Linked DNA regions of Homo sapiens. The protein of the gene in region 1 purifies or fractionates together with the protein of each later gene. This does not show direct contact. Each region holds a gene or a part of one and is shown on either strand. Other genes may lie near its edges.

Evidence for each region.
Region 2: the proteins of GBX1 (region 1) and QPRT purify together in Homo sapiens (affinity purification with mass spectrometry; one large-scale study listed by BioGRID and IntAct). This does not show direct contact.
Region 3: the proteins of GBX1 (region 1) and DNAJC6 purify together in Homo sapiens (affinity purification with mass spectrometry; one large-scale study listed by BioGRID and IntAct). This does not show direct contact.

The regions. Positions count from the first base shown.
Region 1 is NC_000007.14:151,164,854-151,169,047, forward strand, and holds the start of GBX1 (homeobox protein GBX-1), read right to left. Parts: upstream 2,842-4,194; 5' UTR 2,696-2,841; coding exon 2,158-2,695; intron 1-2,157.
Region 2 is NC_000016.10:29,685,615-29,689,223, reverse strand, and holds part of QPRT (nicotinate-nucleotide pyrophosphorylase [carboxylating]), read right to left. Parts: intron 1-3,609. UniProt on the Homo sapiens protein: Involved in the catabolism of quinolinic acid (QA).
Region 3 is NC_000001.11:65,315,978-65,319,586, reverse strand, and holds part of DNAJC6 (auxilin), read right to left. Parts: exon of another isoform or gene 3,439-3,609; intron 1,261-3,438; exon of another isoform or gene 1-1,260. UniProt on the Homo sapiens protein: May act as a protein phosphatase and/or a lipid phosphatase.

The DNA of each region.
Region 1 (4,194 bases):
CCCCTCACTCTCAATATTAAAAACTCTTTAAAGAAAATTACTCCTAGTGTTGAAACTTTTCCTTATTCCCCTAGTATTTTTATTTAGTTCCCCCCAAATCCTCTCATGACAGAACTCTTACACACACACACACAAACACACACACACATACACACACACACTCACTCACACTTGTGGTCCAGTAATACAGTTCACTTTTCATTTAGTCCAGTCCAGAGTTCCTTTTCCAGCAGAGAACCCTCTCCTTCTTCATGTTCTCTTTGTATATTCCAGTATACAACTCATCCCCTGGTCCTTTCCTCTATTCTTGTTTCATCAGTATTTCTCTTCTGTTTTTTCTCTGCTTATTCCTCTCTTTCTCAATGTCTGTTTTTATAGCCAATATACTATATGATCCAGAAAAGAGCTCCCATTATACATATAGGTCAAAATAAGAACTGAGCAGACCTGAAAGGGTGGGACAAATTGCTTGTTGTCCCACAGTTTGGGCATATGCCCCTAAGTCCCCGCTACCAAGGGATCCCCCCTCCATCCTCTCTCTTCAGCTCATCTCTTTCTATATGTGTCTGGTTACACCTTCAGGTCCTATCTCCTCCAAAGTCATCTCTTTGATGGCCTGTCTTACTCTTTTTTCTGCCTTAGGACCATCCTATTCTGACAATCATACTAATCTTTTTTTCTTAAGATCATCCTGCTGGCTTCCAGGCTCCCGCCCTGGGCCCTTTTATCTTGTGGACATTTTCTCCCACCTTCCAGTTGCTGCTCTATCTGTTCCTTATGATCCCCCTTAGAAGATGCTATTCTGACTTCAGTTACTGGGTCTTCCTGATCCAACCAGGTACAAAAAAGAAAACAACAGCTGAATCCCCAAAAGCAAAATGCCAGGGCGAAAGGAGAAAAGAATAGGAAGACAGGCCCCATGGCAGCCTTTGGGGTCTGAAAGAGTGATTAACCCTTTGGACAATGTCAGAAAGGGCCCCATAACTGATAATCAAGAATTATCTCTGCTGGCAAAGGACAAAAGCACTCTTGCATTCCCTTCTTGTCTCTGTTCAAGTCAGCTCCCAGGCCTACTGGGGTCATTTCCACCTCTAAGCTGGATGCAATGAATGGTTGAGCAGAAGCGGTTCCATCCTGATACTAAAGATGTTGAAGCATCAGAGTCCCCACACTTGCAAGTGGTGCCTATTTTTCTTAAATAGGGCCCAGCAAATTGTATAAGCTTTGGAACTCAGAACACCTGAATCTGTCTAGCCAGAAGAAAGCTTTTCTGGCTTCTAGGAGTTAAGGACCAATAGAGAGGTCAGGAGGGCTCTAATTGAATGGACTCTAAACAAGGTTCAGTTTAATACACCCTGCCTCTATGGAGAGGGCACCATTCATGGAGGGTCCAGGGCCCTTGAATTATCTGTCAGCTGAATCTTAGCTGGGTTCTGCACCCTAGATCTTTGGGCCACACCCAACTCAGCCCAGCCTTTAGCCTCTCTCTTGGTCTCCTAGTCAGCACTTGTCCAGCGTGTGCTAGGCCTCCTGTAGCTAATGTTCTCTTTGGCCCCCTACTCAGTTCTTCAAGGCTTAGCTCTGAATCTGCCAATTCAGAAGTCACGGCTTTGAGACGCAACCCCCCCCCCCCAACACACACACACACACACACTCTTTTTGCCCCTGCATCCACAGAGCCTATTCCTATCCTTTGAGCCTTTAGGGTCAGTATGATCTCCTTAGAAGCCAGAACGTGCCCTCCATTGCTGAATTGACAGCTGCTTCAACATACCCCCATCTTGGTGCCCCCGGAAATCCCATCCTTGTAGCTTGTCTACCCCTGACAGAGGAGGAAAAAAATGAAGGAATTCTGAAAAGGAGACAGGGCCAAGTCTTGATGGCTAGGATGCTGAGGGAAAGGCACTAATGTGAAGGGAGCACTGCAAAGTCTTCGGTTAGCCTTCAGGGCTATGGGGACAGAGCAGGGCGGGGGTTCTGGAATCTAAAGAGGCTGTATTTGGAACTGAATTGGAGTCAGAACCTGCGCGCGATCTAAAGGTCTGGGACTTCAAGGCTCCAGGCAGGTGCCGAGGTGCCGAGGTTCCGAGCAGGTTCCTGTCTGGAATTTCCAGGTGAACCGGCCTCCCGCCAGCCCTGGTCGGCCCTAGCACTTACCGGGCAGACTTGGAAAAGTCTCTGAGAAGTGCGGAGGCGGAGGTGGTGGGGGCTCTGCCACTTTCTCCCGGGCCGGCAGCAGCTCATCAGCTTCCAGCCCACCCTCTGGGCGTCGGCCGCCTGGCTCGGGGTTGTTTCGGGCGGCAGTGGCGGCGGCGGCGGCAGCGGCGGCGGCGAGCTCCTGGGGCCCGTAGAAAGCGTCGGGCGGCTCCGCGAAGCTGGGCAGCGCGGTGGTCAGCGCCACCATCGAGGGCACAGCCTGACCCAGCCCCGCGCAGAAGGTGTTGGTAAGGCGGCCGGCGAAAGAGGCTAGCGGGGCGAGGGGCGGGAGGCCAGCGGGCAGCGGCGCAGGGGCCAGCGCCTGCGGCAGCACGAGCGGCCGGTAGGGCATGAACATGGGGTAGCCGGTGTACAGCAAGTGGCCGGAGCGCGGCGGCGGCGGCCCGATTAGGGAGTCGATGGAGAAGGCAGTGCCCGGGCCCCCGCCGCCGCCCCCGCCGTTGCCCCCAGGGGCGCTACCGCCTCCGGCCCGCTGCATCTTGTTCGGAGCTGCGGCCGCCCCGGGGCGCTCCTCTCTGGGCGCCTCCGTGCGCCCCGCGGCTCGGGCGCCCCGCGCGGACACGCAGGGCTCGCTCCCTGGCTCCCGGGCCGAGGTGGCGGCGGGGCGCGGGCTCGGCGCAGTGTGGCTCCGGCGCCGCGCTCCCTCTCTCTCATAAGGAGGGAGGGGGCGGGCGAGCAGGCGGGCTGGGGGTGTCGCCCTCCGGACTCATCCATCTTCCTCAAATTACGCTTCATTTCCTCCCTCCGCCCGCCGCCGCCGCGCCCGGCTCCCGCTCCCTCCGCAGAGCCCGTTCCCAGCGGCCCGGCCGGCCGGCCCGGGACCCCCACCCGCCCCCCGCGGCCCAACCAACTATTATTAATGGAGATTGATGAGGCCGGACACGCCGCTTTGTGAAAGTTTGCGGCCGACGAGAAGGCGGCGGCAGCTGCTGGGCCGGTCCCCTTCCCTCCACCCAGTCCACCCCCCCAACTCAGCCCACCTGGCCCGGGCTCCGGCTAGGAGGGCAAGCGGGAGGTGGCCCAGGCTCCGATGGGGCGGCGGGGCCGAGCGTGGATGGGACACCGGGCGGCAGGCGGAGAGGGCGCACCAGCAGGGACAGGCGGCGGGGCCGGACCTCAGCACCCCTCTGCTCCGGGCCGCCGCCCTCCTTCGGGCCCCAAGTCATTCCCCGGCGTGCCTCCCAGCTCCGACACCCCTCCCCTGCCCGTGGAGCGGACGTTGTGGCGGTCCCCAGAGCAAGCTCCGGCGCGACGGGCGGGACAGCACGGCCACCGCCCCCTCCAGCGAGAGCGCGGGGCTGAGGGAGGCGAGGCGGGGCCGACAGGGGGCGCGCTGGGCCCGCCCGGTTCTGCGGCTTAGGGCCACTCTTACGGGGCCCCTTTCCTCCTATCTGCCCCATTCGCACTCTGGCCTCTGGTCTCTATTCTCTTGGCATTGGCTCTTCACCTTCTTCCTCATTCCCTCCTCCATCTCCAACTTCCCCTAGTCCCTTTCTCTTGCCTCGGTGGGTAATTTCCTTGAGTGCCCACACTATGCCAAGTACTTACCATTCCTCTGACCTTTCCCCTCCATCTTTCTCCCGTCCTTTACATTCTTTTTCTTCCTCCCACCCCTCTTCCCTTTCCCGTCCTCGTTTCTATTCCTATTCCTCTGATTATTTCTTTCCCATCTCTCATTCCTTATCCCAGTCCCTCTTACTCGATTTTTCTCATGTCTTTCCTTTATCTGTATCTCTTGTCTGTCTGTCTGTCTATCTCTTGTCTCCCTCCCTCGCTCTCTCTCCTTCTCTTCTGCTATTAATTTTCCCTGATTGGCTCCCCAGCTCCAGCGCCGCTGATGAGCCCTATTCATTCCCGGGCCTGACACTCACGACCTGCCCTGGCTGATTGCTGGGGGCTGGCCCCAGGAGCGCTGATGAGCCCCAAGGGTCAGCAGCGCTAATTATCCGCTAATTGCAGATGACTCTCACCTCCCCC
Region 2 (3,609 bases), on another chromosome or scaffold:
ACTTGGGAGGCTGAGGCAGGAGAATCTCTTGAACCCAGGAGGCAGAGGTTGCAATGAGCTGAGATTGCGCCATTGCAATCCATCCTGGGTGACAGAGTGCAATTCGGTCTCAAAAAAAAAGTTAAATTTAAAAACAAACAAAAGGCTGGGCGCGGTGGCTCACGCCTGTAATCCCAGCACTTTGGGAGGCTGAGGCAGGCGAATCACCTGAGATCAGGAGTTTGAGACCAGCCTGACCAATATTATGAAACCCCGTCTCTCCTAAAAATACAAAAATTAGCCGGGCATGGTGGTGTGCGCCTGTAGTCCCAGCTACTCGGGAGGCTGAGGCAGGAGAATCGCTTGAACCCAGGAGGCAGAGGTTGCAGTGAGTCAATATCGCGCCATTGCACTCCAGCCTGGCCAACAAGAGCGAAACTCAGTCTCAAAAAAAAAAAAAAAGAGAATAAAAACAAACAAAAAATTAGCCTGAGGTCAGGAGTTCAAGACCAGCCTGTCCAACATGGCAAAACCCTGTCCCTACTAAAAACACAAAACTTAGCTGGGTGTGGTGGCATGTGCCTGTAATCCCAGCTCCTCGGGAGGCTGAGGCACGAGAATTGCTTGAACCTAGGAGGCAGAGTTTGCAGTGAGCCGAGATAGCACCACTGTACTCCAGCCTGGGCGACAGAGTGAGACTCTGTCTTAAATAAATTAATAAACAAACAAATAAATAAAGTAACTTTGATGGGCTCACTCAGAGGTTCTGTCTATAGCCAAACCTCACTCAGGTTCCCTCAGCTCTTTTCCAGTTAGGCCTTGGACTTCCGTGTTCACCTCTGCATCGTCCAATTTTAGCAAGAATACTGCTAAGTCAGCTTAGCCAGTCCCTCATCCTCCACATCTGATTGCCCCCGATCCCTGATGGGGGTCCTCATTCTCCACTCTCCCCCAGGCGCTGTCTGACCACCTTGGCCTGCCCTCAGCAAGAATCCCTTTAGGTTGGTCTTGTCAGAATACCCCCAACCCCCAGTGCTTTCTCATGGTAATGTCCCATCCACTGCCCCCAACTCTGCTCGTTGGCTATAACCCCCATGGTGTAGAGTTCAGCCCAGTTCTGATCTAAGGTCACTCTTCCCCTACAGCAATAGTCTGGAATGCAATATGTTTTTGCTATTTTAACGACTGTCTAGTTCTGGTTTTCTTTGATCACTCTCCTGCTGAAAACTGACCTTTCATGGTTTCAGCTCCAGTTCTCTTGACTTTTTTCTTTCTTTCTTTTTGAGACAGAGTGGAATGCAGTGGTGCAATCATGGCTCACTGCAGCCTTGAACTCCCGGGCTCATGTGGTCCTCTCACCTCAGCCTCCTGAGTAGCTGCTCCACCATGCCAAGGTAATTTTTTTTTTTTTTAATAGAGACAGGGTCTCAAACTCCTGGCTTTTAAACATTTTTTTCTTTTTCTTTTTTCTGAGACAGTCTCACTTTGTTGCCCAGGCTGGAGTGCAGTGGCATGCAATGGAAAAGGGATGGACCCCCGAGCTTTGGCAATAAAAGTAGACTCACTGCAGCCTCTGCCTCCTGAGTTCTCCTGCCTCAGCCTCCTGAGTAGCTGGGATTACAGGCATGTGCCACCATGCCTGGCCAATTTTTGTATTTTAGTACATTTCTGTATTTTATAACAGCACGAGGAGGTCATTATTGTCATCCCTGTCACAGATTAGGAACCCAAGGCCCCTGAGGGTTGTCTCCAGTCCACAATCACTTAGTGACAAGTGGCAGAGCCAGGGCTGGACCTCAGGTGTGCGGCCCCAGAGCCTGGGCTCTGATTCACTGTGCTACGCAACCTCTCTGATGGGATAAGTATCCTAGCTCACATACTATGAAGCTAACCAATATAAAATTGCCAATATTTGGCCGTTTTGACCAATAAAAGCAGCACATTTATATGGTTCAGTATACGAAGCACTTGGATATAGCAGAAAACTCAATGGCCAGACACAGTCTTTGCCCATCGAGAGGAAACAGCCGTAGACTGTGATGATGGGGGAAGAACAGGAAGCACAGAGGGACCAGGATCTAACCTCCGGGCGTGTCTGTGAGGCCCCTGCTGAGGAAGTGATGTTTAAGGGAAGACCTGCAAGAGGAACAAGAGCTGAAGGGGGAGATTGGGGATGAGGATAAGGGAAGGGGCTTCCAGGCCAAGGCACAGTCCTGCAACAGCATAGGCTAAAGCCTGACAAGTAAGAGAAAGAGCTGCCCACGCTGTTGCCTCCATGCCTAGCAATTATTAACACCCCACACAGTGCAGGTGCTCAATGAGGATGTGTCAGAGAATCAGTGAAAAATGGAAAGAAGTTGCCAGGTGTGGAGGCTCATGTCTGTTAATCCCAGCACTCTGGGAAGCCAGGGTGGGAGGAAGACAAGGCCAGGAGTTGGAGGCTGGGCACAGTGGCTCACGCCTATAATCCCAGAACTTTGGGAGGCCGAGGCAAGTGGACCACTTGAAGTCAGGAGTTCAAGACCAGCCTGGCCAAGATGGTGAAACCCCGTCTCTACTAAAAATACAAAAAATAAAAAAAATTAAAAAAATAAAAAGCCGAGCGCCTGTAATCCCAGCTACTCGGGAGGCTGAGGCAGAGAATTGCTTGAACTTGGGAGGCGGAGGTTGCAGTGAGCCAAGATTGTGCCACCGCACTCCAGCCTGGGCGACAGAGCAAGACTGCGTCTCAAAAACAAAAAACAAAAGACTTTATGTTTGAAAGCCCTTAGGAACACTGTCTAGCACAGGGTAGGCGTGCTCGCGAAGAAAAGAAGCGTTTCTCAAGTGTGGTGGACTCATGGAATAAATGACTAGGTGTCTCTGAGGACCGGTGAGTGATGTTTGCCAGGCAGAGGTGTGGGGTGGGGCTGACATTTGGGGCTGAGAAAACTGATCTGTTCACCTGCAGACAGTGTCGGGGTGGGGGCAGTGTGGGATTCACAGGTGACATGGTGGGAGGAGAGGCCACAGGGAGAAAGAACTAAACTATTTAGCTGAGGAATTTGGCCAGATCGCAGAAGCCATCATAAAATTTCATTTTATTGGCCGGACACAGTGGCTCACACCTGTAATTCCAGCACTTTGGGAGGCCGAGGTGGGCCGATCACCTGAGGTCAGGAGTTCGAGTCCAGCCTGACCAACATGGTGAAACCCCGTCTCTACTAAAAATACAAAATTAGCCGGGCATGGTGGCACATGCCTGTAATCCCAACTACTCAGGAGGCTGAGGCAGGAGAATCGGTTGAACCCGGGAGGTGGAGGTTGCCGTGAGCTGAGATCCCACCATTGTATTCCAGCCTAGGCAACAAGAGCGAAACTCCATCTCAAAAAAAATTTTCTTTTCATTTTATTTTATTATTTTTAAGTAGAGACGGGGGGTCTCGCTATGTTGCCCAGGCTGGTCTTGAACTCCTGGGCTCAAGCAGTCCTCCCACCTCGGCCTCCCAAAGTGCTGGGATTACAAGTGTGATCCACCATGCCTGACCCATCACAGAATTTTAAAAGAGGGAGTGATATGATTATGGTTTTGCTCCAGAAGGGTCACTTCAGCCACCAACTGGAGACAGATTGGGAGGCAAAAGAAGGCTG
Region 3 (3,609 bases), on another chromosome or scaffold:
ATCATCTTCCAAGTTTCTCAGGTGTTTGATTATTCTTGCTGTGCCTCCATCAACAAGCAAGGAACCAGAGTCTAGGGCTCTCCCAGTGAGAAGGGGCCACCCGATACAGACACCGTACTGGCCTCGGGCCTTAGGCCTGGACTCAGCCCAGAGCCACAGAGCTTCAGTTCTAGCATTTCTACCCATTATCTCACTCTTCCTCCAGGCAAACACAGGGCCTGCTTCTACCACACACCCCTCCACAGCACTCCCCTGGGCATCTGCACAGCCTAATGGGCAGCCTACCAAAAAGCTGAAAGCCTGGTGAAAGCTTGTGCCAAGCTAACAGTATTCTCAGCCCTTCCACAAGTATGTTCATGGTGAACTTGCAGCAGAGAAAAACAGTTGATCACATTTTCCACTTCTGGCTGAGACTAGAAATACTACCTTCTCTCCTGCTGCCATCCAGGTATCTCCTGTATCTCAGACCCCACCATTGGTTGGTTGTCAGTCTGTCATTCACCTGTGCAATGCTTCCCCAGGCTGACTTTTTCCCAGTCTCACTGACACTGCCCTGGCTAGGGCCTTCGTTGTTTCTCAGGTCATCAGCTAAACTGCAATTTGATTGTTCTCCTGGTCCTCCACTGGCATGCTCTGTCTTCCAACACACCCCTCCCCTTCCTCCTAAATCAAACATGCTTGGGGCCCAGGAATCTGTGTTTTCTTTTCCTTTTTTTCCTTCAACTTTTATTTTAAGTTCTGGTGTACATGTGCAGCATGTTTGTTACATAGATAAACGTGTGCCATGATGGTTTGCTGCACAGACCAACCCATCACCTAGGTATTCAGCCCAGCATCCATTAGCTATTCTTCCTGATGCTCTCCTTCCCCCGCCCCACCCATGCCCTGACAAGCTCCAGTGTGTGTTGTTCCCTGCCATGTGTCCATGTGTTCTCATCTTCAGCTCCCGCTTATAAGTGAGAACATGCAGTGTTTGGTTTTCTGTTCCTGCATTAGTTTGCTGAGGATAACAGCTTCCAGCTCCATCCATGTCCCTGCAAAGGTCATGATCTCATTCCTTTTTACGGCTGCATAGTAGGGAATCTGTGTTTACTCAGGTACATCTGATGCAGCCAGATCACAGTTAGGAACCACCGGTGGGATTCATCCTTCACACAGCTGTAAATTATCTCCAGGATTCACATTTTGCCCTCTTTTCCCTGGGGCTGCAGTATGACTTTTGTAGGCCGTAGGCATTTTTACCTTCATGGACCTATTCCTCTATTAACAGAAAAAAAAACATATATTTTAATGACTGCATTTGAATAAAGATGAATTCATTATTGTTATACTTATTTATTTTATTCTGATTTTTAAAGGCAATTAAAATGTAAACATTTTTGTGGACCCTAAAATTATTGTGGTTTCTAGACACTGTGCCTAGTAGATAAGTCAGCCCTACCTCACCCCATCTCCAAATCTTCACTGGCCTCCCACTGCCTGCAGAATAAAGTCCAACCTCCTCAAGCAGACTCACCCTGACCTGGGTCTTATCTTCCCAGCACCATCTGCTATAGCACCTCCCACCCATCTGGGCTCCAGCTTCAAGCCTAAATGCAATTCTCTAAACATACCATGCACTATGATGCCACTGTGCATTAGCCCAAAGCCCAAAACGGGTTTTCTTTCTTTCTTTTCCTACAGATTTCTGGCTCAAATATCAACTTCCACTGTGGCCTTCTTTAGTCTTCCTGGTTAAAATTATGGCTCCTTCTTCTGCACCCCTATTGCACTTTATATAACTATTATTATACTATTTATTCACCCTGACTTTTGTCAAATATCTCCAATTCTAATTGCACTTTTTTCACAGCATAACACTTCTAAAATTAGGAAGTGGCTTACAATGTATGCCAAACACACTTGCCAGCTACCAGGTAGAGTACTACACCACAATACAACAACAGTAATTTTCTGCACATGCAAACTTAACACTGCACAGGAGGCATTGGCTCATCTGGTTGCTTCCTTGGTGGTGACATTTGCGCTGTTAATACTACACGCATTTTAATTTTAATTTAAAGTTTCTATCTCTAGCACTTTTAAAACTATGTTCTGATGTGTTATTGAAATAAAAAGATATTTTTTGCATCTAGACTATGGCCTGTGACATGTGGGATAAAGCAACTAAAGGTAGTAGAAATTGCCAGATCCCTTGGCACATGTTATGGAACTTCCTAATTTCTTGGACCGTGAAGAACTTCTCCTCAGATACTGAGCTACTCTTTCAAAAGCTTCCAAGTAAATTTCAGGAATAGCTGTTTAATATACAATAACTGTAATTTAGTTTTTTCAGAGTTACACCTTTCGCAACAAGGAAATGCACAATCTAAACTCCAGCATTCTTCATCCATCTCAAACATAGCTTTTTTCCAAAAGGAGTTCAAGATGGTGAGCACAGATTTAAAAAAGCAGTTAAGTTAGCACAAAGCTTATATACAACTGCAGACGGCCAAAGATGATACAAAGAACTTTTAATATTAAACCTGAAAATGGCTAAGATTAAAACTTAATGACACCGATTAAGAAATACACAGATCTATAGATGAAAGTCATCTATTGTCAGTTCATTAAAAAAATTGTATACATTTTGAGTTTCCTTTTTTGGCTAAAAAAAAAAAAGTGACCTTTATGATGAATCATACAGTAGATTGTATTTGTTGGTCGAAAAAGCACAATCTTTTGGTAAGCTAATTCTTTCTTGACATGTCTATATTAGAAAACTGTTAAGGATCTAGGCTATATATTAACCATCTTTCTTTCACTTCCAGTGTCTTTACATATGAAAAAATGCTCATTACTGAATTGGTCTAGCTTTCGACCAACAGTTACATTTCTCTCAAACCTGGCCTCATTTCTGTTAAAACCTAGCTGTATGCTTATTTTTAGATTTGGATGGGCATATTTCATTATAAATGCCCTTTTAAAAATTCAAAATCCATTCATGCTTTTGTGCATCCAACAAGTATTTATCAGGCTCCTAATAAATGCCAAGCAATGACAAGACTACAAAGGCAAATAAGACCCAGCCTTGCTCTGAACTTTACTTACAGACTAGAGGGAGAGACAGGCCAGGCAGCATGTCACAACTCAATGTGATGAGAGCTGTGATACGGAAGTAAAGGCTGCTGAGGAGCATGGAGAATGACCATTGCATGCAGCCTGCGATTAAGGAATATCTGAGCTAAACCCTGAAGAATGAATAGGAGATAACCTGGAAAAGTGGGTGTCCAGGGGTCTATGGGATAAGTTGGCCTGAGTTGAGAGAACAGTGTATGCAAAAACATAAAGATGGAGGTGCAGGCTGGGGAGGGGATCTACCAGTGGAGCGACAACAAGTTTTGTTGGGCCAGCTTTCACAGGTGCCACAAAGGGCTTCTGATGTCCTGTTAAGAATACCTTGGATTTTATCCTAAGAGCAGTGGGGATCCATTTTCATTTGCAATATATTTTTCCAAAAATATATAATGCTTCATCAATTGTATTGTTCTCTCAGTGCCGTATCAAGTCTTAATCAGCTTTATTCAATGCTGTTTTTGCTGTTTTCATTTCCAGTGTTTTTAAATTCTT